Regions from separate parts of the Homo sapiens genome. Here regions 1 and 3 are each linked to region 2. The links come from fine-mapping of genetic effects on gene expression. A gene starts in region 2. Each other region holds a variant in brackets. All regions are shown on one strand. Distances are from middle to middle.

Region 1 (11,272 bases), 23 kb before region 2:
GAGGAACAAGGGCTGGAGGGAGAGAAGAGGCACAAAGCTGGTGGCCTGAGGCAGGCAAGGGGAGGGCACGAGCTGTCCCCTCAGACTCTGCTCCTCTGCCTTAAATCCCCCTTTAACTATTTCAAGTGTATTAGTTTCCCCAGCTTCAAAAGCTTCCCGAAGTTGCTCCCTAAGGCTTCGGCATCTCCCCAGCACGTGGCGCGCACTGGTGCTGTACAGTTAAGGGACACAGCGCCGTGGTCCTTCCACCTGCACCACGGTCTCTGCTCCCTAGAACTGACCAGGGGAGAACCAGGCACACACCAGCCTTGAGCCCTTGCTTCTTTGCTCTGCTCAGCCTCAAGGGACTCCCTGGACTCCTCCCACAGCTCCTACCTGGAGGAAAAACTAGGGGCAAATGTGAGCCCGTTGCAGCTCTCACGGTGCTGCCTGGGGCCCAGCATCAACAGACATTTTCCTTTCCTTTCCCCAAAACCAAAGTCATGTTAGTGTAGTAGTAGTAGTACAGACTGAGAGGAGATTAGAAACAAAGGGTTTGATTATTTCCCAAGAGAAAATGCAAGAGTTCATGCATAAACTGTTTCCAGAACGCTGTCCGGTTGGGAGGCTGGGACACGAACTGAAACTCAGAGCCTAGGAAGCGTGAGCCAAGGCTGTGGGGCCAGGAAAAGGAGAGAAGGTGAAACCCCCGTCAGTCCCTCACAATCAGCACGTGGAAATCTAGAAATGCAGGAGAGGCCTGGACTCATGGTGGAATCCAGAATGAAAGAGGTGGACGACTGAATGAGCAGAAGGAGGCAAGCACCAGAGGCTTGGGGGTCACATTTCTTGGAAGTGGCCTGGAGCTGGCAGATGAGAACTCTGGCTACCCGTCCTCATTCCACTAACAGTAGCTCCTCTAACGACATGCCCCTTCCCTCTGTACCCCGCTCCGCATGCGGCAAGTAGTTCCCGGACGCGACCCTTCCCCCTGTACCCCGCTCCGCATGGGGCCAGTAGTTCCCGGACGCGCCCCTTCCCTCTGTACCCCGCTCCGCATGCGGCAAGTAGTTCCCGGACGCGCCCCTTCCCTCTGTACCCGGCTCCGCATGCGGAAAGTAGTTCCTACGGTGTTGGTTTTGCATGTAGATGAAACCCTTTGAGGGGTAAAGGTTTTTTTTTTAAGTACTTTAGCAAATGCAAACTGTTATTATCAATATTAGCCAGCATCTTTTTTTTTTTTTTTTTTTTTTTTTTTGAGATGGAGTTTCGCTCTTGTCACCCAGGCTGGAGTGCAATGGCAAAATCTAGGCTCACTGCAACCTCCGCCTCCCAAGTTCAAGCGATTCTCCTGCCTCAGCCTCCCAGGTAGCTGGGATTACAGGCGTGTGCAACCACACCCAGCTAATTTTTGTATTTTTAGTAGAGACAGGGTTTCACCATGTTGGCCAGGCTGGTCTCGAACTCCTGACCTCATGTGATCCATCCGCCTCAGCCTCCCAAAGTGCTGGGATTACGTAGCCAGTGTCTTTCTTAAGTGCCTGTCAAATAATGCTCCTGGTTTATAAGTGCCCCTGGCTCTACCTTCTGGGTGCTCAGACACCAACACAGAGAGAACAGAATTAACATCCTGAGAAGTTACATATGCTAAAATATAAAGAGTAAGATTGTGAGGAAACTGCAGGGGAAGCAGGTAGGTTAGGAAAAGGTATCCTCACTTTTCTGCTGACCGATGAGTCATAATTCTTGAATTTCGGTGCTGGAAAGGTCCATTAAGCATTCCAGGAGATTCTAGGGAGCTTCCAGAATGGTAGAAGAACTGGAACCATAAAGCCTGGGGAAGGGATGGAAGTCCTTGGGAAAGAAGCACTAAACAGCCCAGTGGAGACAAGGAAGGACTGGTCTCTCCTGTGCTTCGAGCCCAGCAATGATTATTCACTCAGATATGCCCCGGCAGGTCCTGCTGCTAGAGCCAGTGCTGTTCCCAGACCCAGGCAAGGTGCCATCCTACCCCTGACAGGAAACAGGGCAGGAGGTGGGGCTGCCCCGGGTGCCTGGTGTTGGGAGGGGCCGGGGGGAATCCCGGGTGTTGGGAGGACAAGGCAGAGTCAGCTAGCTGTGAGGCTAGGGGAGAAGACCTCTCTAGTCTGGGAGAGACCCCTCCTTTCCTAGCTCCTTGTACTTCCAAAAAGGCAGGCTTCCTGCTGTTACTAACCATACCAGGACTGACTATACAGCAGCCAGAAAGATTCTGAGAAACCTGTGATAGAGAAAAACAGATGCGGAAGCGGGAGAAGAGAATTTCATAGGACACTAGGGAAAGAGAATGGGAACTTGTGGTCTAAAGAGGGAACCAAGTCTGGCCAACATGGTGAAACCCCATCTCTATTACAAATACAAAAATTAGCTGGGCATGGTAGTGCATGCCTGTAATCCCAGCTACTCAGGAGGGTAAGGCATGAGAATCACTTGAGACTGGGAGGCGGAGGTTGCAGTGAGCCGAGACTGCACCACTGCACTCCAGCCTGGGCAACAGAGCAAGACCTCGTCTCAAAAAAAAAAAAAAATTAAATTTAAATTAAAAAAAAATAAACAGGGAACCAACAAGAGCTGGCAGAACAGAATAAAGTCTCAAGCCAAATAACTCCCTTGCCTTGGAAGAACAAGGCTGCCAGCGTCTTGGAGCCTCTGTTTATCGGGTACCAGTTCAAAGGACAGTGAGCCTGAGCTGGCCTGGGAGGCCCTCCCCCCTCCCAGATGAAAACAATAGGCCTGTTTTCCTGAGCTCTTCCTGTAATCCAGAAGGCCCACACAGAGAGGAAGAGGGGGGCAAAGGCAGTGGCTATACCCAGTGGGGGAGGGGATATTTAGCCTCCCATAAATTCATCAGCTCCCTTAAAGACACCCCAAAACACCAACAATCTAAGTGTTAAAATAGTGACTGCTATGCAAATGGAGCTTTAAAACCTATCCCTTAGCCCCAGTACCACCAGATTACTAACCCTAAACCCCATCTGTAGGAGATATTCTGAAGCCACCACAGGGGAAGGGATAAGGGCCTGAGAGACAAAGGACAGATGGGGTCTCCCCAACAATTTAAGTTAAGTTCCACAAGGATACAGTACTGGCAGAGATTTGGAAGTAGGGGCAAGTATTCTGACAGAAGGGTGGTGTCTTAGGCACCCTTCAATTAGGAGTAGCTAAAGGCTGTGTGTGTGTCTGTGTGTGTGCATAAGAAAAGAAATAGGAGGGTGTGTGTGTGGTAAGAAAGAGCATCTTGGCTGGGCGCGGTGGCTCACCCCTATAATCGCAGCACTTTGGGATGCCAAGGCTGGCGGATTGCCTGAGCTCAGGAGTTTGAGACCATACGGGGCAACATGGTGAAACCCCATCTCTACTAAAAATACAAAAAATTAGCTGGGCATGGTGGTGCGTGCCTATAGTTCCAGCTACTCGGGAGGCTGAGGCATGAGAATGGCTTGAGCCCTGGAGGCAGAGGTTGAAGTGAGCTGAGATCGCACCATTGCATTCCAGCTTGGGCTACAGAGTGACACTCCATCTCAAAAAAAAAAAAAAAAAAAAAAAAAACCAGCATCTTTGCTGCCACTAGTCCACTGTCTTTGCACTCACTCTCTGCCATGCCCATCCTTGTCCCCCTCCCCACTCACAGACATGTCCAACAACAGCCCCGAGTATGCTTTGGTTTTCACCATCTCGGGTGCTATGGCCACCATGGTCTCCAGTGGCCTGGGTGCTGCCTGTGGCATGGCCAAGAATGGCACCGGCATCATGGCCATGTCTGTCATGTGGCCAGAGCTGATCCACATGAAGTCCATCATCCCAGTGGTCATGGCTGGTATCATCACCATCTATGGCCTAGTGGCGGCTGTCCCCCCTGCCAACTCCCTGAATGATGACAACAGTCTCTATAGCAGTTTCCTCCAGCTGGGCGCTGGCCTGAGTGGCCTGGCAGCCGGCTTTGCCATCGTCATCGTGGGGGACACTGGCAAGTGTGGCACTGCCCAGCAGCCCCGACTATTTGTAGGCATGATACTGATCCTCATCTTTGCCAAGGTGCTCATTCTCTCCACAAAGCAGCCCCTCTCAAAACCCACCAGTCACAGAATACGATGTAAAGACCACCCCTCCTCATTCCGGAACAAACAGCCTGACACGCATGTGCTGGGCAGCTGGCCCTCAGTAGTTGATCTTCTAAGTGTACAGTGTCCTCGTGTTCATCGTCTGTTGGCCAGGCCTTGCCCCCTCCCGCCCCATGCTGTGGACATCTGAACCTACTCATCACCCATCCAGGTCCCCGACCAGTGAGGACTCAGGCCCCTGGATGCCCCACCCATCTCCCTTGAGTACTCTATGTATAAGGATGAATTAGAGTTGTCATTTTCTCTTCATTAGATATTTATAAAGATTTGGCCTGTCCATACCCCTGTGGAGCAGCCCTCATCTCCCACCTATCTGTCACGTCATGGAGGTTCCCATTGCGGAGGCTCCTTGGATGGAACCACCCTCTCCAGCCCGCGCTGCCAGGCCCTGTGCGGCAGCTGTGTCTGATAAAGTTCTCAGATGTCGGGGGAGGGAAAGAAAAAAAAAAGAGAGTGTGAGTACGTAAGAGAGAGAAAACGGGAGTGGGTGTGTGAGCTGGAGACAGGGAAGTGGCAGGAAAAGTCTGATAAGATCACCTCCTTCCTACCCAAGCAGAGATACTGGACACAGCCCCTCAAGGACCCAGAGGGTAAGTAGAGCGCGAGATGCTTGCCTTTCTCAATGGGAGGTGGCCTCCCAGGCCTGAAGAAGTCTCCATTTACCCCAGAGCCAACTAGGAAGCAGGTAGACAGCATCATCCCCACTTATACCCCAAGGTGCTTGGGGTGAATGGCAGGCCCAAAGCCAAAGCATGAGACAGATTAAATGTTCCTATGGCGAGAGAAGGAGAAGGGGTCACCAGCATCTCTCCACTGAGCAAATGAAAGGAAGAGAGAAGGCAGGCTGATACCCTCATCAATTTCCTACTGTCCATGATATACCACCATCAACTGGACTTTTTTTTTTTTTTTGAGATAGAGTCTCGCTTTTGTCACCCAGGCTGGAGTGCAGTGGCATGATCTCAGCTCACTGCAACTTCCATCTCCCAGGTTCAAGTGATTCTCCCGCCTCAGCCTCCTGAGTAGCTGGGATTACAGGTGCCTGCTACCACATCCAGCTGATTTTTTTTGTATTTTTAGTAGAGATGGGGTTTCTTTCTTTTTTTTTTTTTTTTTTGAGACGGAGTCTTGCTCTGTCGCCCAGGCTGGAGTGCAGTGGCGCGATCTCGGCTCACTGCAACCTCCGCCTCCCAGGTTCACGCCATTCTCCTGCCTCAGCCTCCCGAGTAGCTGGGACTACAGGCACCTGCCACCACACTCGGCTAATTTTTTGTATGTTTAGTAGATATGGGGTTTCACTGCTGTCTCAACCTTCTGACCTCATGATCCGCCCGCCTCGGCCTCCCAAAGTGCTGGGATTACAGGCATGAGCCACTGTGCCCGGCCTTTTTTTTTTTTTTTGAGATGGAGTCTCGCTCTGTCGCCCAGGCTGGAGTGCAATGCCACAATCTCAGCTCACTGCAAGCTCCACCTCCGAGGTTCACGCCATTCTCCTGCCTCAGCCTCCTGAGTAGCTGGGACTACAGGCGCCCGCCACCACGCCCAGCTAATTTTTTGTATTTTTAGTAGAGACGGGGTTTCACCTTGTTAGCCAGGATGGTCTTGATCTCCTGACCTCGTGATCCACCTGCCTCAGCCTCCCAAAGTGCTG[G/A]GATTACAGGTGTGAGCCACCATGCCTGGCCTTTTTTTTTTTTTTAAGACAGGAGTGTGGTGGCACAATCTCAGCTCACTGCAACCTCCCCTTCTAGGTTCAAGCAATTCTCCTGCCTCAGCTTCCTAAGTATAGTAATAGCTGGGACTATAGGCGCCCACCACCACGCCCGGCTAATCTTTTGTATTTTTAGTAGAGATGGGGTTTCACCATGTTGGCCAGGCTGGTCTCGAATTGCTGACCTCAAGTGATCTGCCCACCTGGGCCTCCCAAAGTGCTGGGACTATAGGCGGGAGCCACCGCGCCCAGCCTGGACTCTTTTTAATGAAGCCTTCAAAAAAACTCCTTTTCTCAGCGCTTCTTACTCTCTGAAACAGACTCTCCACTCTGCTAACCCTGCCTCTCACACTGTGGAACTCAACCGGATCTTTTTATTCTGAATCCACAACGTGAAGTACTTGTCCTCTGTCTATCGATGGCTACCTGTGTTTTGAAGTGTTTTTATGGGAATGAAGCACTGGAGGGGAGGAAATCAGGCCAGTTCTAGAAGTAGAAGGAAGGCGAAGAAACCAGGAAAAATATTTATGTGATGGGAGGAAAGGCAGTTTATAAATCACTCATGGATCTCTATGCCAGAGGGATGTGTGAGACACACGCATGCACACACACACTGACTTGCAGGTACATGCAGAGGCAGAAACAAGTCAGGACATGACACATACATGAATACACATACCATTCTCATCAGAAACCAGTCAGAGCAGAGGGGCCCTGCCTGGAGCAAGGAGACTGGAATTTATTCCCCTCCTCCTCTCAAAGGGTAATTTTGCTGCCTCCATGTCTAGGTTCCCCACAGATCTGGCTGCCTCAGACAGGGGCCCTGGTCTGGTGGCTGGACTCAGCCTGGAGGTCTTCACAGATGGAGGCCTATAAGAGGTGGCAGCTGACACCTGGAGGGAGCTGGATGAAAGCAGGCAGTGCAGAGTAGAGAAAGCCAGGTGGTGGGGGAGGGAGTGAGGGAGAAGAGGGGACCAGATTCAAGCAGCCTTGCGCTGGTTCTAAAATGGCCACAGCAAGGCAACGGACAGATGGTCCCTTTCTGATGCTGAGCCGGGGAAGTGGGGAAAGGGAAAAGGAAAAAATAAACACCATCACAGTCAGAAATTTAAAAATAAACTGAAAAACCTAAAAAATAAACCGTTTGCTTCTGAGGTTCCGTCTGCCTCCAGAACCTTCTAAGGGAAAATACAGAACTGCAGGCCTGGAAGGGCAGCCCCAGCCTCGGGTGTGAAGATAGTTGGAGGTCATTCTAGCCATCTCCTATCCCCAGCTGGAGTATCTTGCAAAGTCTTTCAGGCAGCGGAGGTGGTATCTCAGCCTTTACCTCCCCAGCACTTCTTCTCAAGTCTCACTGTAGGTAAGCGAGGCCATGGCTTTTCAAATGTCAGAGCCGTTTGATTCTGTCTCTCTCCCAAGAATCAGTTTCCGTCCGAGATCAGCAGAATCAAGTTCATCCTCTCACAGTTGCTGCCTCTCCTACCACCACCCAACTGCCCAGACTTTACAGTTCACAGGGTGCTTTCACAGTCATGACTGCATCTGCACTTAAACCTGCAGGGAAGCTTGGCAGGAATGACTAGCTCAGAGCACAGATGAGAAAGCCAGGGCTCTAACAAGTGAAATGTTTGTCAAGGTGAAGCAAGCGCTCAAACTTGCATAGCCTTCCGATGGCACACAGCAACAACCACACTCCCCCACCAACCACACTCTTCCCACCAACCACACTCCCCCCACCAACCACACTCCCCCTCAACCACACTCCACCAACCACACTCCCCCAACCACACTCTTCCCACCAACCACACTCCCCCCAACCACACTCTTCCCACCAACCACACTCCCCCACCAACCACACTCTTCCCACCAACCACACTCCCCCACCAACCACTCTACCTACCAACCACATTCCCCCCACCAACCACACTCTTCCCACCAACCACACTCCCTCACCAACCACACTCCCCCCACCAACCACACTCCCCCCACCAACCACACTCCCCCTCAACCACACTCCCCCACCAACCACACTCCCCCACCAACCACACTCCCCCCACCACACTCCCCCAACCACACTTCCCCCACCAACCACACTCCCCCCATCAACCACACTCCCCCCACCAACCACACTCCCCCTCAACCACACTCTCCCCACCAACCACACTCCCCCCACCAACCACACTCCCCCATCAATCACACTCCTCCACCAACCACACTCCCCACCAACCACACTCCCCCTCAACCACACTCCCCCCAACAACCACACTCCCCCACCAACCACACTCCCCCACAAATCACACTCCCCCACCAACCACACTCCCCCACCAACCACACTCCCCCACCAACCACACTCCCCCACAAACCACACTCCCCCACCAAACACACTCCACCCATCAACCACACTCCCCCACAAATCACACCCCCCCCACCCAGTAGATTCTGTCTCCCTCTGTGGGCCAAACAGGTTCTTCCTCAGGCTCACATATGACTGCTGTACAGCTGAATATCCCAGCTATGGTTTACCTGGAGCCTTGCCAATTCTCATGCTGGTGCCTTTTGGTTCTTGCTGGTGTGGGGATGAGGCAGAGGGGCAGGAACACTGCACTAACTAGTGGCTTTCTCTCTGTTCCTTCTCACTCCTGGGTCTCCACATGCTGTTCATCACTCTCCTCCTCTTTACCTGGATGCCTCGTGCCTGTGCCTCCCGACCTCCACTGAGACAATGTCACCTCCAGGAAGTGCCCCTCACAATCCTCTCCTCCCACAATACCCTGTACTGACTCTTTCGTGACACCAATTACATTTTTGTGATTGATTCTCTTATCTGTCTCCTCTGCTAGACTAAGTTCTTGGAGGTCAGGGCTGCCCTCAATACCTGTCTGTGGAATGAATGAATACAGAAATAAAAGAAAAACCTCCCTCCTTCCTTAATGCAGCAGTTATCTAGAAAAACCTCCCTCCTTCCTTAATGCAGCAGTTTCTCACACTAGTTTTGGATTATCTCCATCCTTCCAAAATAATCCTTGAATATTCACTTAAGTGGAATGCATTAGAGCAGCTACTAAAAGTGAATCTCCTTTTTGTCATATGAATCAGCACCTCATAATTTATATGCTTGGTAAATGTTTTACCAGAGAGTGGACTTTCTTAGTTTTTTTTTTTTTTTTTTTTTTTTTTTTGAGACAGAGTCTCACTCTGTTGCCCAGGCTGGAGTGCAGTGGGGTGATCTCAGCTCACCGCATCCTCTGCCTCCCCGATTCAAGTGATTCTCCTGTCCCAGCCTCCCAAGTAGTTGGGATTACAGGCACAAGCCACCACACCCGGCTAATTTTTGTATTTTTAGTAGAGACAGGGTTTACCTTGTTGGTCAGGCTGGTCTTGAACTCCTGACCTCAGGTGATCCACCCACCTTGGCCTCCTAAAGTGCTGGGATTACAGGCGTGAGCCACCACGCACGGCCCGAGAGTGGACTTTCTTAAGGCAGGGAATTCCTACGTGGTTGGCAAAAACCACACGGGAACACTAATAATGGCCCAAAGAGGTCGGGAGACAATGGGGCCAGGAGAGATGAAGGGAAGGCTTCTCGGAGGAGAAAAGAGCTCAGCGCAGTGGAAAGGAGAAGGAAACGGGCAGAGGCTGGGCTGGGTGAGAAGGGCCAAAGAAGTCCCCATCGCAGGGGGGCAGACAGCGAGCAGGAAGGCTCTAAGATGGAAGAGGGTAACTCAGGGGTAGGCTTTCTTAGCTGAGGACAACAGCAAGACAGGAGTGTGGTGAAATGGAATGATGGTGCTTAGTGTTTACTGCACTAAGAATCAGAAGGCCTGGGCACTGGTTCTGACTCTTCTGTATAATTTAGGCAAATCCGCAAATCACTTAACCTCTTGGAGGTTCTTTTCCTTATCTACCCAGGCCCATTTCACAAGAATTCACCGATGTGGAAACATTTTAAAATCCATAAAATGCTACAAATTTGCATAGAGTCATTATGAAGAAACTGGCTCCCACAAAGCAAGGCAAAACTGTGGCAAAAAGTGATTTACCAAAACTGTTGGCGTTACTGGGATTTAGGGTGAAGTGTGGCAGTTCAGGAGAGAAGAAACAAGATAAAAAGTAGAATTGAGAGGAAGGCAGGTGAGACAGAAGGGAGGAAAACCAGATCTGTGGCCTCGGAGGCAGGCTGACAGGGGCAGGGAGGAGGGCCAGTCCCTGGGAAGCAGACACCAGAGAGAGCAAGGAAGGGCACAGCATGGCAGTGGGAGGGGGCAGAAAGGAGATGCCAGGCCCGTTCAGGCTGGCAGATACCAAGCTAACGGAGGAGGACAACACTAGTAATGAGGGGTTGGATAATAATAAGGCTTCTTGCTGCTGGTTTTCAATTGCAGCACAAACAGATCATTATATCTTATTGCCAGCCTCCTTCTGTGGGAGTCAGGTGTCCACAAACCCAAGGAAGAGACTAGAGAAGCTTCATGACCAAGAAAACTTGTGACCTGTACCCATATGATTTCGAATTCCAGAAGACCAATGACAGGCCATGAGAGAAAACTTAGGAAGGAAAGCTCTGAAGGACAAGGGGACAGGAAAAGAGATCCTGGAAGGAGAGGGAGAGGGTGTGAAGCTGAGTCAGCTGTAGGAAGAACAGGTAGAGGGCGGGGGGGGCCAGCAGGAAGGGGAGGAAGGACTGTCTGAATCACACTCTGAGAAAGAACAGGGTTACTCTCCAAAGGGTGGAGACCAGATATTCTCTGGCCCCACCAAGGACCAACCCAGGATAAATTACAGCTGAAGAGACGCAGGTGAGACAGAAGGGGAACTTCCTGACCAGCAGGATGGAGCAAACATGTTCACTCAACTTTTCACCAGGCCTGTCTCTCCTGTTTATCCTAAGAAACCTTCCCAGACACCTTTCATGCCAAATCTATGGCCTGGTGAGCCAGCTCATGCATTCATTCAACAAACACTGAGTGTCAGCTATGTAGAGGCATTGCTAGATACTACAACGTGGCGTTGAACAAAACAGAAATGGTCCCTTCTTCCTTCATGGAGCTTACAGTCTAATCAAGGAAGCAGACATTAAAGACATAATTACACAACACCTGTGAAAGACTCTGATGAAAAAATACAGAGTGCTATCAGAACGATTCAAGGAGGCTGCAGTGAGCCACGCTTGCGCCACTGCACTACAGCCTGGATGACAGAGGGAGACAGTGTCTCAAAAAAAAGAAGAAAAGAAAGATTAAAGGGAGGTCAAGATGGGAAGGGAGCCAGGAAAGGCTCGCTAAGGAAGTGATGTTTAAGCTGAGACCAGCCGGGCGCGGTGGCTCACACCTGTAATCCCAGCGCTTTGGGAGGCCGAGGCGGGCGGACCACCTGAGGCCGGGAGTTCGAGACTAGCCTGACCAACATGGAGAAACCCCACCTCTAC
Region 2 (7,547 bases):
CAGAAGCACTGGGAGCAGGTCACCCGGTCTCCTGAGGGGAGAGGAGAGTAAGGCTGGAGGCAACTGAGGAAGGCTAACATTGCTTCAAGCCGAGAAGTCCAGAAGGGAAATACCACATCTAAGGTCAGAGGGTATTTGTGGAATTGCTGGAAATCCCAGGTTGAGGGTCCAGGCCAAACTACCAAAAGAGGCTAAAAGAGAAACCCAAGCAGAGTCCCACAAGGTTCAAAGCAAAGGTTGTGGTTTGGACCCGCCCCGTTTTTTTGTTTTGTTTTGTTTTGTTTAAGACAAGGTCTCGCTTTGTCGCCCAAGCTGGAGTGCAGTGGTGCAATCTTGGCTCACTGCAACCTCCACCTCCCCAGTTCAAGCAGTTCTCCTGCCTCAGCCTCCTGAGTAGCTGGGATCACAGGTGTGTGCCACCACGTGTGGCTAATTTTTGTATTTTTAGTAAGGATGGGGTTTCACAGTGTTGGCCAGGCTGGTCCCGAACTCCTGACCTCAGGTGATGCCCCACCTCGGCCTCCCAAAGTGCTGGGATTACAGGTGTGAGCACCTCGCCCGGCCTGACCCACCCATTTTTTATTGTATTTTAGTCACCCCAGCCACAGGAACCTGTAGCCAGTTAATCAATAACCAAGGTAGGAAGGAAAGGTGGAAGTTCATCCCAGAATGGAGCACATTAAGGGACTTTTACTCAGAATCTGGATTTCCATCTTATATCCCGACTTGGGCATCCCAGTTTAAACCCTGGCCAAGCTGACCTTAAGAATCTCCCTCCTAAAGCCTTCAGACCCTCTCCTCATCAACACACACACATGTGCCTGCGCACACAGAGAAATTCAGCGTTCAGTCCCTCTCCCCAGAAATTTATCACGTTATCTCCAGCAAGTCAGGTCTCATAGCCCAACATTGCACCAAACAAATTATGACCTGAAAATGGGAAGAAAAAAAACTGTGTCACCTAGAGAAACCCAATTAACAACATGACTCTGCTCTCTTCAATTCCCCTCTCCCCTCCAGCCATATCCGGGGCACCTGTGTGGCTGACCGCCTTTTCCCACTACTGGCCATGTTCCCTGGCTGACTCAAAAGCCAGAAGACAGTCTGAGCAGGGGCCTCCAGAGAAGCGAACCTAGAGATGGGAAGTCCTGCTCTCCCCACACCTTGGCCTGGTGAGAGCGCTGGAAGGGCACAGGATCAAAACACCACCTGGCTGATAGTCTGGAGTGTTCACCTTGAAATCACTAAGTTGCCCCTTAAGCCAAAGCTCCCTGCCGAAGAAAAACATAAATGCTACAGAAAGCTCTTCCACCAGAGTGTGTAAGTGCCCCACAAGGGACAATGAACGGGTATTTCCAAGAAATTCCTGCAGCATTTGCTTCCTCTCAACCCCTTTCCTTATTAGCCCCTACCTTGAGAGGTCTCCATTGCTTCCAGCCTTTAGCTAACATAAACACCCACTGCCTTTCCAAACCTTCAGCCTGACCACATGTAGCATGTGTCGTGTGTGCGCGTGTGTGTGTGTGTAAACATCCTCTTCCCAGCCCGTGCTACAGTTTCCAAAGAGAAGAAATGCCTCCCCTCCTCCCCGAGGGCTCCCAGCCCCACGCTGCTGCAGAGTTGGTCATGTAATATTCAGGGACCCTGAGACCGGAAATGCCTGGTTCTGAACTGCTGCACTTGAAACAGGAGAGAAGGGATAGGGAAAACTGAACATGGGATTGAGGGTGACGGCACGAGGGGTGGGGTAGCTGAAATTCCGACCAGGGAAAGGATGCAATTCAAGGGTGGGCGAGGCAGAGAAAGAGGGATGAGAGAGAGGCTGTCGAGACAGTTGCAAAGTCAAAATTCCAGGAGCTGAGGAAGAGGAGGGGAAGGAAGAAGATAGAAGTAAGGGCAAAGGTGGAAAAGGGCCGAAAGGAGGTAAGGAACCACAATAAAGGTTCTCCAGGTGATGGGGGAGGCTAAGTTTAGGCGAACCAGTGGGTCCCGAACCCCAGAGTAAAGGTAGGGTGGCACGGAAGTGTGGGGGCGGGGCACCACAGGGTGGGGACCGAACTGGCTCCCAGCATCTGCAGCCAGTGGAGAGAGAAGGGAGCAGAGGGCGGGGGCCCAGCCGCGGCGGGAGTCCGGGAAAGGGGCACGGGTCGCCAAGGGGACCCAAGCTGGTGGAGGGGGCGCCCGGGAGCACGTGAGGCGTGCAGCCACCCCGCTCCCTCCCCTGCGGCGGGGACAGGAACCAGGGCGAGGCTGGGGGACGGCGCGCTCACCCGCAGGGCGGACAGGTCGATGTCGTCCAGGCTGCGGGCGGGGGCTGGGTCGCCCATGGCCTCCGTGGGGAACGGGGCACCGGGGCCGCTCACGCTCCGGCTCGGTTACTCCACTGCCGCCGTCGCCGCTTCTCCCCCATCGGAGAACCCCGGGGGCGGACTCCACCGCGCCTCCCCCGGAGACCGGGGAGGGGGAGGGCCGGCGCGAGGACCGACCCACCGACTGACAGGCGCTATCTCCCCGGAGCCAGCCACCCGAGCCTACCACCTCTCCTGCGCAGGCGCGGAGCGACCGCGCACTGGGAGGGTGGAAGCGCGAGCGTGACGCGAGCGCGCCGGGGCCCCCTCCCCCTAGGCGCCGACACCTGCGCGCAGGCGCAGGCGAGCAGGCGAAAGGCGCGCGCGAGGACGGAGCGACCGCGCGAGCCTGGCGTGAAAGAAGTGGGCGGCGGCCGAGGCGGCCGCGGAGCGCGCCCACCAGCTGGTGCGCGTGCGCACACGCGTTTCCTTTTCTTTCCCTATTTTTTTTGCCCTTTCTCTCCCTTATTTCCTTCTCAGATCTCCTTTGACGCCTTTCCTTCCCTTTCCCTCCTTCTTTCGTGTGCCCAGCTGCCAATCAAGCCACCCACCTTTCCATTTGCGGGGGAAGGGGGCGGTACCCAACCCCCTCTATTACTAGGGGGTTGTTATGGTAACTCCCCACGCGAGGGCTGGGTGGCCTCTAGATAGGACGGGCTGTCCACCCACCCAATTGCTATGGCAACAGTGGAGCCGCTGAGGGAGGGGCCACTCCGTGAGAACTTGGCTGGAGAAACCACGTGGGAGTTGGGGGGCAGAGGAGGGGCACCGGCTGCCTCAGGAATGCCCTTTCCACCCTCACCTAGCAGGTTGGGGAAGCATCGAGGTGCTCTCAGATCTCAGGATAAGGAATCCTACCGCAGACGTGTATCTCTGCACCTCTTTTAACAAAGTGTTCTGCACAAAGGAACTGTTTCCACAATTATTCATTGATCACTGGAGTCGCGCGTGGAGGAAGGGGTGGCGAAGGGGAAGAGAGGGAATCTGCGTTCAGTCCCTTAAAATATAGCTTGGGTCACCTTAGATCTAGTCATGTTGGCATAGCGCCTACAGCCATTAGCCTCAGTGGAGGCTGGGTAATGCTATCTAAGAACCACGAGTCATGTTCTACCACTGAAATGCTGTGTGACCTTGAGCAAGTTGCTTTGCTTCTCTGAGGTTTTCTTTCACTGTGAAATTGAGGGGGGAGGCTGTATGATCCTCAAGAGCTCTTCTAGCACCAACACTGCCTCTGAAAGACTCCACCACCAGCCTTAATATAAACATCATTTAAGAGAGTTTAATTTAGAAGTCCTTGAAAAATAGCTGAACACATTCCTTTCTGGACCGTTTTTAGCATTTGGGTGCACAGCCAGTCGGCCCCCTTCCCTAACCCCTAGCCCATTTTCCTTGCCACTGCCCTTATTCAAGCCGCTATCCCCATTCATCTCCTATTTGGCCTTCCGGCCTGACTCCTTCAAGTCAATTCTATTTTTTTTTTTTTTTTTTTTTTTTTGAGACAGAGTCTCACTCTGTCGCCCAGGCTGGAGTGCAGTGGTGCGATCTTAGCTCACTGCAAGCTCCGCTTTCCGGGTTCATGCCATTCTCCTGCCTCAGCCTCCTGAGTAGCTGGGACTACAGGCGCCCGCCACCTCGCCCGGCTAATTTTTTGTATTTTTAGTGGAGACGGGGTTTCACCATGTTAGCCAGGATGGTCTCGATCTCATGACCTCGTGATCCGCCCGCCTCGGCCTCCCAAAGTGCTGGGATTACAGGCGTCAGCCACTGTGCCCAGCCTCTATTTTTTTTTTTTTAAAGACAAAGTCTCGCTCTGTCACCCAGGCTGGAGTACAATGGTATGATCTCTGCTCACTGCAACCTCAAGCTTCTGGGCTCAAGCTATCCTCCAACCTCAGCCTCCCAAGTAGCCAGGACTACAGGCAGCGCATGCCACTACACCTGGCTGATTTTTATATGTTTTGTAGAGATGGGGCTTTGCCATGTCGCCCAATCTGGTCTCAAACCCCTGGCCTCAAGTGATCTGCCTGCCTCGGCCTCCCAAAATGCGGAGATTACAGGATCCCTTGAGGACAGGAGTTGGAGGCCAGCCTGGCCAACATGGTGGGGTTTTTTGTTTGTTTTTTTTTTTTTTTTTTTTTTTTTAGACAGTTTTAGTTTAGTTTAGTTTTTTTGTGAATTTGTGAATTTGTTTTTATTGGGGAACAGGACACAGGGTGGAAAATGTCACCTTGGTGGAGACAGAGTTTTGTTCTCGTTGCCCAGGCTGGAGTGCAGTGGCACAATCTTGGCTCACTGCAACCTCCGCCTCCCGGGTTCAAGCAATTCTCCTATCTCAGCCTCCTGAGTAGCTGGGATTACAGGTGCACGCCACCACGCGTAGCTAATTTTTTGTATTTTCAGTTGAGACGGGGTTTCATCATGTTGGCCAGGCTGGTCTCGAACTCCTGGTCTCAGGTGATCCACCTGCATTGGCCTCCCAAAGTGCAGGGATTACAGGCGTGAACCACCACAACCGGCCAAGCCTCGCAGACATAGTGAAACTCTGTCTCTATTAAAAATACAAAAAATTGGCCGGGCACGGTGGCTTGCGCCTGTAATCCCAGCACTTTTGGGGAGGCCGAGACGAGTGGATCACCTGAGGTCAGGAGTTTGAGACCAGCCTGGACAACATGGTGAAACCATGTCTCTACTAAAAATACAAAAATTAGCCGGGCATGGTGGCAGGCGCCTGTAATCCCAGCTATTCGGGATGCCGATGCAGAAGAATCGCTTGAACCCGGGAGGCAGAGGTTGCAGTGAGCCGAGAACGTGCCACTGCACTCCAGCCTGGGTGACAGAGCAAGACAACGTCTCAAAAAAAAAAAAAAAAAAAAAGCCGGGTGCAGTGGCTCACGCCTGTAATCCCAGCACTTTTGGGGAGGCCGAGACGAGTGGATCACCTGAGGTCAGGAGTTTGAGACCAGCCTGGACAACATGGTGAAACCATGTCTCTACTAAAAATACAAAAATTAGCCGGGCATGGTGGCAGGCGCCTGTAATCCCAGCTATTCGGGATGCCGATGCAGAAGAATCGCTTGAACCCGGGAGGCAGAGGTTGCAGTGAGCCGAGAACGTGCCACTGCACTCCAGCCTGGGTGACAGAGCAAGACAACGTCTCAAAAAAAAAAAAAAAAAAAAAGCCGGGTGCAGTGGCTCACGCCTGTAATCCCAGCACTTTGGGAGGCTGAGGCGGGAGGATCACGAGGTCAGGAGATCAAGACCATCCTGGCTAACACGGTGAAACCCCGTCTCTACCAAAAATACAAAAAAAAATTAGCCGGGCGTGGTGGTGGGCGCCTGTAGTCCCAGCTACTCCGGAGGCTGAGGCAGGAGAATGGTGTGAACCCCGGAGGCGGAGCTTGCAGTGAGCCGAGGTCGTGCCACTGCACTCCAGCCTGGGCGACAGAGCAAGACTCCGTCTCAAAAAAAAAAAAAAAAAAAATTGGCCGGGCGTGGTGGCTCATGCCTGCAATCCCAGCACTTGGGGAAGCCAAGGCAGGCGACTGCACTCCAGCCTGGGCAACAGCGCGAGACTCTGTCTCAAAAAAAAAAAAAAAAAAAAAAGGCCAGGCACGGTGGCTCACGCCTGTAATCCCAGCACTTTGGGAGGCCAAGGCAGGTGGATCACGAGGTCAAGAGATCGAGACCATCCTGACAAACATGGAGAAACCCCGTCTCTACTAAAAATACAAAATTGGCCGTGTGTGGTGGCGCATGCCTGTAATCCCAGCTACTTAGGAGGCCGGGGCAGGAGAATCTCTTGAATCTGGGAGGCGGAGGTTGTGGTGAGCCGAGATCATGCCATTGCACTCCAGCTTGGGCAACAAGAGCGAAACTCCATCTCAAAACAAAACAAAAACCAGATTGGCTGGGCATGGTGGCTCACACCTGTAATCCCCGCACTTTGGGAGGCTGAGGCAGGTGGATCACCTGAGATTGGGAGTTCGAGACCAGCCTGGCCAACATGGTGAAATGCCGTCTCTACTAAAAATACAAAAAATTAGCCGGGCGTGGTGGGGTGTGCCTATAATCCCAGCTACTTGGGAGGCTGAGGCAAGAGGATTGCTTGAACCCAGGAGGCAGAGGTTGCAGTGAGCTGAGATTGCACCACTGCACTCCCGCCTGGGTGACAGCGTGAGACTCTGTCTCATAAAAAAAAAAAAAAAAAAAAAAAAAAAAAAGGCAAAGTGTGGCATCAAAGACCCTTCAAGATTCTGCTGGCTTTTCTTGCCTTCTTTTTCTTTGTTAACGGTTTGCTTCTTTAGGAGTTGGGGTCTTGCTCTATCACCCAGGCTAGAGTGTAGTGGCACGATCATGGCTTACGGCAGCCTCCAACTCCTGGGCTCAAGTGTTAATCCTGCCTCAGGCTCTTGAGTTGCTGGGATTATAGGCATGAACCACCCTGCTCAGTGCCTGCCTTACTTTTCAATACTCAACTATTAGACCTCACATTTTCCAGCCATACTGAAATACTCTACTCACTTCCCAGAACTCAACTTTCTCTCCCCCAACCTTTGCATGTACTCTGTTTTCTCTTTGGAATATTCCCTAGCCTCTTGACCATGCCCATTCTTACCGTGCTTTGCTTTGTCCTACGTGTCTAAATCACCTCCTCCATGAAGCGTTCCTTGACTCACCAAGACTAAGTTTGGTTCTTCTGTTTTAGCTGCCTGGCTTTAGTCCATGGTAACATTTAATGATTTGAATTGTAAATGTCTTTTGAATCTCCTTAAAAGCAGGAATAATATTAGTCTTGTTCAGCACATGGCCTGGCACCCACTAGAAAATCAATAACGCTTAAAAAAAAAACAAAAGAAAGAAAATCACTAACACTTAAGCAATGAAGGTGGCCAGGCACCGTGGCCCATGCCTGTAATCCCAGCACTTTGGGAGGCTGAGGCGGGTGGATCACCTGAGGTCAGGGGTTCGAGACCAGCCTGACCAATATGGTGAAAACCTGTCTCTATGAAAAATACAAAAATTAGCTGGGCGTGGTGGTGTGCACCTGTAATCCCGGCTAGGTGGGAGGCTGAGGCAGGGGAATTGCTTGAACCCGGGAGGCGGAGGTTGCAGTGAGCTGTGATCATGCCACTGCACTCCAGCCCGGGCGACAGAGCGAGACTCCATCCCCAAAAAAAAAAAAAAAAAAGTAATGAAGGC
Region 3 (8,126 bases), 320 kb after region 2:
GGGAAGGCACAGGTGCCTGGGACACAGGCCAATTATGTGACTTGCCTAGTTGTCCACTGAGTAACATCATGGTCTACTCGACTGGCTTCTTGGCTTAGGTGGCCAAAGGGGTGAGGGCACCCTGGGGAGCCATCCTAGCTGTGCCGGGGTAGGTGACAGGTGAGGGCCATGGTGTACAGACTAGAGGGTCCCTCAGAATGCTGGCAATTCTCACCATGGCCCAGAGGCACCCGCCCTGGGGACACTGAGATGCCAGGTATCCAGGCTCCCCCCCAGCCTATGGGCAGCAGAGGCAGAGGCCCAGGTCCCTATTCCAGGCCGGCTGCTCTCCACTGCCAGCCCTCAAGCAAGCCATTTCCCTGTCTTGGGCCTTTGTCCCTGTATCTGGTAAGTGCAGCTGACAAACAGAGCCCGTAGGGTTACTGGAAGAATGAAACAAGACAATGCCTGTGTGTGCTTTGTCCACCTCCAGCCAGGCCACCGGGATGAGGAGGGACGGAGTGACTTCTCTTTCATGAGCCCGAGAAGCCAGCCTGGGACAGAACCGCAGAAAGAACCAGGGAACCCTCACACCTGCCTTGAGCCGAGCCCCCAACCCCCTGCCCGGCCTGTGACCCTCCCCACCATTCCCTGTACCTCCCGCCCCCTCCCTGGGCTGTGCTGGCCCCGACCATGCTCAGTGGTCATTAAATGGAGGATGCGTGGGGTAGAGCCTTGCTCCAGATGAGGCAGTGAGGCCGGGACCAGGAGGGGGATGAGGCTCGGGCCAGGTCCCCAGTGAGTCAGGGGCCACACAGGGCGGGGGTTGGGCAGCTAGGCCTTCTCCCACCCTTTCCTTGCCAGCCTGGCAGCCCACTCCTTCCCATGCGCCCATGTGGCTGGAACTCCATTTCCCAGCTGCAGTGCTGGTCACTGCATGCACACAGCCCAGAGGGCTAGAGGAACCTGTCTCAGGCGGCAGGGCAGGCAGACTTATTCTGGCCTAGCCAGGGAGACCCAGGAAGGGGTAGGGGAGGCGTTGGGCTCATGGCCTGGGAAAACATGATGTCTGCCAGGGCAGGGACCTGGCCACCTATAGGGGATACTGGACCGCACGGCCCTGCCCCATCCTAGAACAGTCAAGTCTCACTTGAGCCTGAGAACCATCGCAACCCCTCTCTCTGAGCCCCAAAGTCCCCATCTGGGCTGTAAGGACAGCTAGGAAGGGAGGTGGGGGGAGTGGCTGTGGCATTCTGTGAGCTCGGGAGGGATTGTGAGTACTGGAATGCCACTTAGACAGGTCAGGCAGGTTCCTGGACAGAACGAGCTCACTCCACCCCCTCCCTCCCAGGAGGGCCCAGGCAGGGGAAGGGGTTCACCGACTGGACTGGAATGCAGACCATGGGGACCTCATCCTGCATCTGACGGGGGCTCACAGCCAGATGGACTCCAGGGCCAAGGGCCCAGAGAAAGCAGGATCCAGGCTGGGGCCACACAGCATGACTAGGGCAGAGTCAGGACCAGGCCTCCCGCCCCAAGCCCTGAGTGGCAGCACTGGCCTTAGTCTCTGCCCAGGCCTGAAGGTTGCTGCTAAGAGCATCGCCAACATGGCCTCAGCCAGTGGGAAGGCCAGGGAGCCAAGGGCCCAGCTCCCACAGGGCCATGTCATGGGGAAGGCAGGGACAAGGGAGGCACGCTCCCTGGAGGGAGGGGCTGGTGGGCTGCCATAAGTGCTTAATGGCCTCCCACACTGTCCCGGCCCAGCTTCCAGCAGCCTGGGGGCTCAGGCCCTGCTCTGGCAGCCCATCAGAAGCCTGGGCCCCAGGGGAGAGGGTGGTAGGGAACCTCAGGCCCACGTCCAGTCCAGGGCCCAGATTCTCAGGCGCCTGCCCCGGGCTTGGGAACCGCTCTGGGGCTGACTAGCTGGAGTTTTTTGCTTCGTCACCTAAGAGGCGATTCCCAGGGTTGATGATATTGGAAGGAATGTGGGGGAGGGCAGGAGATAAAAACAGGGTCACCACGGCTCTGCTGGCATTGCCCAACTTACTGAATTAAGGAGCTCCCTGCACCAGCCTCAGGAGGGAGCCTGGATCACTGGGTCCCGATGAGGCCCCAGGACCCAGAGAAAGTTCACCTCTGCAACCTCTGCCTGCACTCTCCTTTACCTGCCATAGCCCCTCAGGGCAGGTATTATTCATTTTGTTACACAAGAAAAGCAGCAGAGGCTCAGAGAAGCAGTGCCATTGGCAGGTGGCAATAGTGAGACTGGGATGCAAAGCCCACTCTCTTTCCAGGAGTCAGGACAGGGGAAGACAGACCGGGTGGCAGATGACGACCAACAGGACAGGACCCACGACGCCAACGCCTGGG[C/T]GTGGGGGGGAAGGTGGGAGGTGGGCCTCACCTGACTGCAGCAGGCCGGCGCCTCGGTCCTTGACCCCAAAGTGCTGCTGGATGTCCAGAAGGACGCCTGGAGGGAAGACAGAGGGTGCTCACTGGCCGAGTCTGATGGCTGGTGTCCCCACAGACCAGCCCAGCCTCTTTCCCGCCTTGCAGGGCCCAGCCTGGCCATATCTGCGGCACTCCTGCTCTGCTGCGACCTCTACCCTGCCCAGGTTTCCCAGGCTTCCCTCCTGCCTCCCCGGGGACCTCCTGTCCTCAGCCTGTTCCCATCACTCACAAGGACCCGAGGGGCAGGGAAAGGCAGGGCTCCTCTGCGGTCATTCTGCCCCATGGGCAACCACACCTCCTATCTGCCAGCTTGGGCCTCTTCCCTACCTGCGGCCCAGGCCGTGGATCAGTGCAATAGACATAGGCCTTTCCCTCAGGGGGAACACAAAGCCCATGACTCAGAGAGCAGCGGGGGCCCTGAAAGCTGCGGGGAGCCCTCTGGCCTGGGAGGGGCAGCCGCTCACTCTGGTTCACCTGCACATGTGCACAACCACATTCGCACACACACGCACACACCTGTACATGCACACACACACCTGCACACGCACGCACGTGTGTGCACACACCTGCACACATGCATACACACCCACGCGCGCACACACATACCCGTGCGCGCGCACGCACACACACACACTGTCACCCCAGCTGCCCTCAGGATTATAACCGGGCCCCTCCATTTTCAGATTCTGGCCCAGGGTACAGAGGGAAGCAGGCGGGGCTCCAGGCCCGTTTTCTTGGGAGAAGTGGATTTCTTGAGGCCACACCCGCTTCCAAGCCCAACTACTTTAGGGCTTTGCACGTCACGGGGTGGGGGCAGCAGCTGGACCACCCAGAAACCACCCACAGCCCCAGCAGACTGGCAGAGCCATGGCTTCTGGGGGACAGGCAGGATCTTGGACCTCCTACCCCTCGCAGCACTCAGCCAGGGCTCCTGAGTAAGCACAACCCCCATCCCCGTGGGCCTCAGGGTCCCTGCCTGCATTATCTGTGAGGACAGGAGGACCCAGGGCACAGGCCAGAGCCCCGCTGACCATAGCACATCTGCAGTGAGAAGGGACAGCGGAAGAAGGAAGAGGAGATGGCCCTGCCTTTGGGGGCCTTACAGGCAGGGACAGAAGCCTTTGGGGGACTCCAGAGCTCTTCATGATGACGATGATGATGGCAGCATTCAACAGATGATGGTTTGCCGAACTGAGCATTAAATGCCTGTATAATCCCCACACAGCCCTAGGAGGCTGGTACTAGGATCCAAGTTGACAGATGAGGAAACTGGAGCATAGGAAGTCAGGCTGTGGGCTCAAAGTCACACCACAGGGAAGTAGGAAAAAGTGGAATCTCCAGGTGCTGTATGAGGATCCTGCTGGCAGCTGGGACTGGGGGTGTGGAAGGAGTGGGGAGGCTGGAACGTCACTGTCCCTTCCGAGACCCAGGTTGGAATCCTGAGCAATTTCCCGGAATGCAGGACAGACGGGCGGATGTCCCAGCAGCCTGACAGCCAGAGAAGCTGTCTTCCTCCTTGTTAATGCCCTGAGTGGGTTGACCATAATTACCCGTAATGAAGAGGCTGTGTGAGGCCCAGTTAATGACTTAATAACCAAGGCAGAGGCTGTGGCTTTGCCTTGAAGGTAGAAGCCGGGGCCAATCCTAGGCCTGTGGATGGCAGAGCCAGCAAGAGGGACCTCTGAGGTGCCCTGACCCAGCCCCAGAGGCTCACAGCCCCACAACCCATTCCTTTCTGGGTCAGGACTCTGTTCCCCCTCCTGATGTGTAGGTTTGATCCCATCCCTCTGTGGCACAGTCACTTCACAGGGTGAAGGTGTGGCCCTGCCAGCCCCGCCCTCCGGCCTCACTTCTCAGGACACCACCCCTCCACTAGCCACCCCAAACTACTCATGGCCCCCTGACTCTGCACACTTCCTCTTCTATTCTGGTACAACTCCGTCAACCAGGCTCACTCCTGCCACTTCTTCAAGGCCAGTTCAGATGCCTCCTGTTCTGGAATATCTCCCCTGCTTGCTCCCCTCCCACCACCCTCAATAAGTTAGTTGCCCCCACTCTTCCCCTGTCCAAACTCGTTTTAGCACTGGGCCTACCAGGATGAGTGGGTTCTATAGGGAATGCACACAGAAGCACAGCTATGAGCTCCTCCTGAGCTGAGAGCCGCTAGTTACCGCTTCCCGCTAAGTTCCAAGGAACTGCGTGAGGCTTTGAAGATGGTACAGACGCTGTCCTCACTATCTGTGCTGGTATTTATGATTCTCATCCCATTTTATATAGGAAGAAACCGAGGCTCTGAGACATGAAGTAATTTGTCACACAGTACATTCTGTTTTGGAGGTGAGATCTGAAACGAGGTCTATTGCCAAAAACCAAAGCTCGTTCTCCTGCCACGCTGCCTTCTGCGTGGTTTGCTGGTGTCCTCCAGGGCCCAGCACACACATAACCCACAGGGACTTTACACGTGGGTGAATGTTTCTTCATCCTCCACTAGACCACAAGCCAGGCAGGAGCCGTGGCCGGTCATCTCCAGGACTCAGAGCAGGGACAGTCACGATTTTGGTGTCGGGTGGACAAGAGGATGGGCGGAGTCAGGAGGAGGCAGGAGGGTCCCCATCCATAGTCCAGAGGAGGGACACGGGTCTGCAGTAACTGCAGGTTCCATTTCTGGGAGGGAGGCCATATCAAAATAGCCATCATGATGACATCCTGTGTCCACGGCAAATCAAAGCACTCTCGCTTCCTCCCTGCAGTATCCAGCTATCCAGCGGCACACTTCCCCATCCGATGACTTCAAGGTCCAGGATTTGCCTCTGCCTCCAGGAAGCCTTCCCCTGACTTCCTACCACATAGAGCTCCTGGTAGAGGGAGAACATTCCTCCACATCCAGATGGGCGTCTAAGGTCTCTGGGAAGTCCTGGGCAGTTCCCAGGACACAGGAAGCTTTTGGATAACATGGCCTGCTCCCGTCCCACCACTCCCCAGCGCCCAGTCTTGGGTCCAAGTCCAAGCTCCAGGAAGAAGACCAGAGAGAACCTTCCCAGGGAGCAGGGCTTCCTGCAGGCTGCGAGGCCCAAGGTCGGACCTGGGCTGAACCTTTCTGGCTTGCTTTCCCTCTTCCGGGCCTGGAGGCGGCCACAGCCACAGGAGGGTGAGATCCCGCTGGCCGCTGGCACGGGAAGCGTGTGTCACAGCAGCTCGGCGGGTCGCCTCAGATTTTCCTTTGGGCTCCAGCACGGCTCAGGCCCACGCACCCCTCCCTTCTTCACCACAGCCTTATTTTTAGCCTCTTTCCTGGAGGCTGAGGTTTGGTGGGTCACAGGATGGGCCTCACGCCCAGGAGCAGCCTCCCACAGCTCAGGCCAAGCCCACCCCGCCAGGCGTGCATGCAAAGTGGGGTTCCTACCCCAGATGCAGACCCCAGCCAACACAGCCACAATGCAGGCCTCTCCAGGCATACCCCAAATCCACAGCTGGAATCGTCTCCTAGCCACAGGGTTCTCATCACCCAAGAAAACATTCTGGAACAACATCCATTGACAAGTTACGTACCTCCCAAGCCCCAGGAGGTCTCACCTCTTGTCTGAGGCCAACGTCCCCTACTCTGGGCCAACAGTCTCTCTCGCCTGGCAGGGAGGCTGCGCTGGGTCAGTCCTTGGCTTGGGCCCGTGCACTCAGCCTCTCCCTGGCTTCCGGCTCCTGCACAGCAGCCCACAAACACGCCCACACCTCCCTCACCCTGGTGGTGAGAACAGCTCTGACTTGTCCCCTCTGCCAGCTGTTCCTTTCCTCTCCTCCTTTCACAGGTGACAGCATTTGTTGTTGTTTTGAGACAGGGTCTTGCTCTCTGACCCAGGCTAAAGTGCAGTGGCACAATCACAGCTCACTGCAGCCTCAGCCTTTTGGGCTCCAGCCATCCTCCTGCCTCAGCCTCCCGAGTAGCTGGGACCACAGGCGTGGACCACGACACTTGGCTAAGAACTCTGGAGAGTTCTTTCCCTTCCCAAGTCAATATTCTCACCTCCTTTCCTCCTCTGAAACCAACCACCTCCTGGAGGCTCAACCCCTGGACGCTCTCATCCCTGTTTCCCAGCCTCCTGACTGATTCCTCAGCTCACCACTGGGTCCCCATTCCCTGAGCGGACCCTGTAGGACACTGCAGGACCCTGGGAGTCAGCCAGGATACCCCTTTGGCTCCCTCCACCTCATGAATGGGCCCCGGTGATTCTCCATCTGCTTTATCGTCCAGCCTCCTCCCTGGACTCCCTGCCTCCAGCCCCTGCCGGCCAGCCGGCATCCCTCCTGCTGCCTGATCTCACAAGCTCTTACGAATCTCCTACTGAGTTCTAAGTCCTGGTCTGGGCCTCTAGAGACCCCGAGACAGTGCCTGGACTCAAGGAGCTAACGCTGTGGCCCACTGGTGACCTCTGGCCTCAGAGTCGTCCATCAGTCCTTTAAGATCCACTGGCCCAGACCCCTGGCTCAGTAATGGTACCAATAACAACAGCGACAATGCACATATTGACACATATCCACCAACTACTTTGTGCCAGGCGCTGTTCTACGAGTATTGGCCCAGTGGGTACGGCTGCCCACTCACACTTAGCAGCCCCATTGCCGCCCAGAATTCTAGCATCTGAGGCCTCCACGGTCTGGCCCTAAGCCAGCTCTTCTCCCAACCACAGTGCCCACCGCACACACATACAGCCCCTGACTCCAGGCAAAGGGAAATGCTGCTAGCCATGACTTTTCACCTCCCTGGACCCCTATTTCTTCCTGTGTAAATGCAGAGACTGGGAAGATCCCCAAACCTGCCTGAGAATCCCAATCACCTTTAGGGAAGGTGCTTATTAAAATACAGCTTCCTGGGGCCCTCCCCAAATCTGCAGAGTCACCCTTTCTAGATGTGGGACCTAAGAATCTATAAACGCACTGCCCAGGTGATTGGAAACCACTGGCCAGGCTGCTCTGAGTTCCCTGGAATCACACATCACAGGCTGTAGGCCGCCCAGCCCTGGCCACAGCTGTGCCTCTTCCTAGGCTATCCCTCTCTAGCCATTAAGACCTGCCTCACCTCTAGGGCGCAGATCCAAAGTCGCGTCTACCAGGATACCTGCGCCTCTCTCCTCTGAGGCTCTTGGTGAAGTGGTGCCTGTAACCTCAAGGGCACCCCCAGAACTGGATGGACTCTGGCCCTGACTCACTCAACAGCTTGCCCCAGACACTCACAGTGATTCCCCATCACTGCTGGTTCTTCAGTAGCCCCGAGAGGAGTCAAGCCCCGATTCCAGGACTTCTGGCCTCCTCCTCCCTCCTCCAGCCAGGCCCAATCTGCTGACATCACAGAATCCTCGAAAGGCCAAGGTGTAAGAGGAAATCCACACTGACCTCAAGAGCCCTCGGCTCAGGCCAGCCTCAAATGCAAGATGCCAACAGCGTGATCCTGAGGTCTCTTCCTTCCTAGGCAGCCCAGACAGGGCACCTGGCACTCAAGCTTGTCCCCGCGTACCCCCTGCTTTCCCCAAGCACAGTCAGTATCAGCCCACGTTCACCCTACCTGAGCCTGTCTCAGAGCAGCAGGTGGCTTAGCTAAATTCTCAAGAGCATGGGCTCTGGAACTGGAGCATCTGGGTTTAAATCCTGGTTTTCCCACTTTCTCTGCTGTGTGACCTTGGGGAAATAACATAACCTCTCTGTGCCAG

Direction of the effects. Positions count from the first base shown, and alleles are read on the strand shown. Sizes are in standard deviations (SD) of each study's normalised expression. Not every link is listed here.
As copies of C replace T in region 3, the expression in thyroid of the gene that starts at base 2,571 in region 2 goes up (small effect, 0.11 SD a copy in GTEx).

Evidence for each region.
Region 1: its variant is fine-mapped to the expression of MINK1 in whole blood (GTEx, PIP 0.98).
Region 3: its variant is fine-mapped to the expression of MINK1 in thyroid (GTEx, PIP 0.92).

What each region holds. Positions count from the first base shown.
Region 1 is chr17:4,849,754-4,861,025 of GRCh38, reverse strand. The region is part of intron 1 of MINK1 (misshapen like kinase 1); the gene reads right to left. It also overlaps the pseudogene ATP6V0CP1. Among named protein-coding and RNA genes, the nearest start is that of MINK1, 22 kb to the right of the region's middle. RefSeq lists a silencer at 878-1,172 and enhancers at 6,229-7,180, 10,647-11,272. The variant G/A (reference allele first, on the strand shown) is at 5,791.
Region 2 is chr17:4,828,364-4,835,910 of GRCh38, reverse strand. It overlaps MINK1 (misshapen like kinase 1), which reads right to left and starts at 2,571. Exons shown (of 32, transcript NM_153827.5): 1 at 2,271-2,571. The coding sequence starts at 2,327. RefSeq lists silencers at 2,021-2,270, 2,281-2,750 and an enhancer at 2,728-3,514.
Region 3 is chr17:4,507,567-4,515,692 of GRCh38, reverse strand. It overlaps SPNS2 (SPNS lysolipid transporter 2, sphingosine-1-phosphate), which reads right to left. Exons shown (of 13, transcript NM_001124758.3): 2 at 2,381-2,446. Among named protein-coding and RNA genes, the nearest start is that of SPNS2, 13 kb to the right of the region's middle. RefSeq lists enhancers at 834-1,491, 2,848-3,494, 6,188-6,247. The variant C/T (reference allele first, on the strand shown) is at 2,350.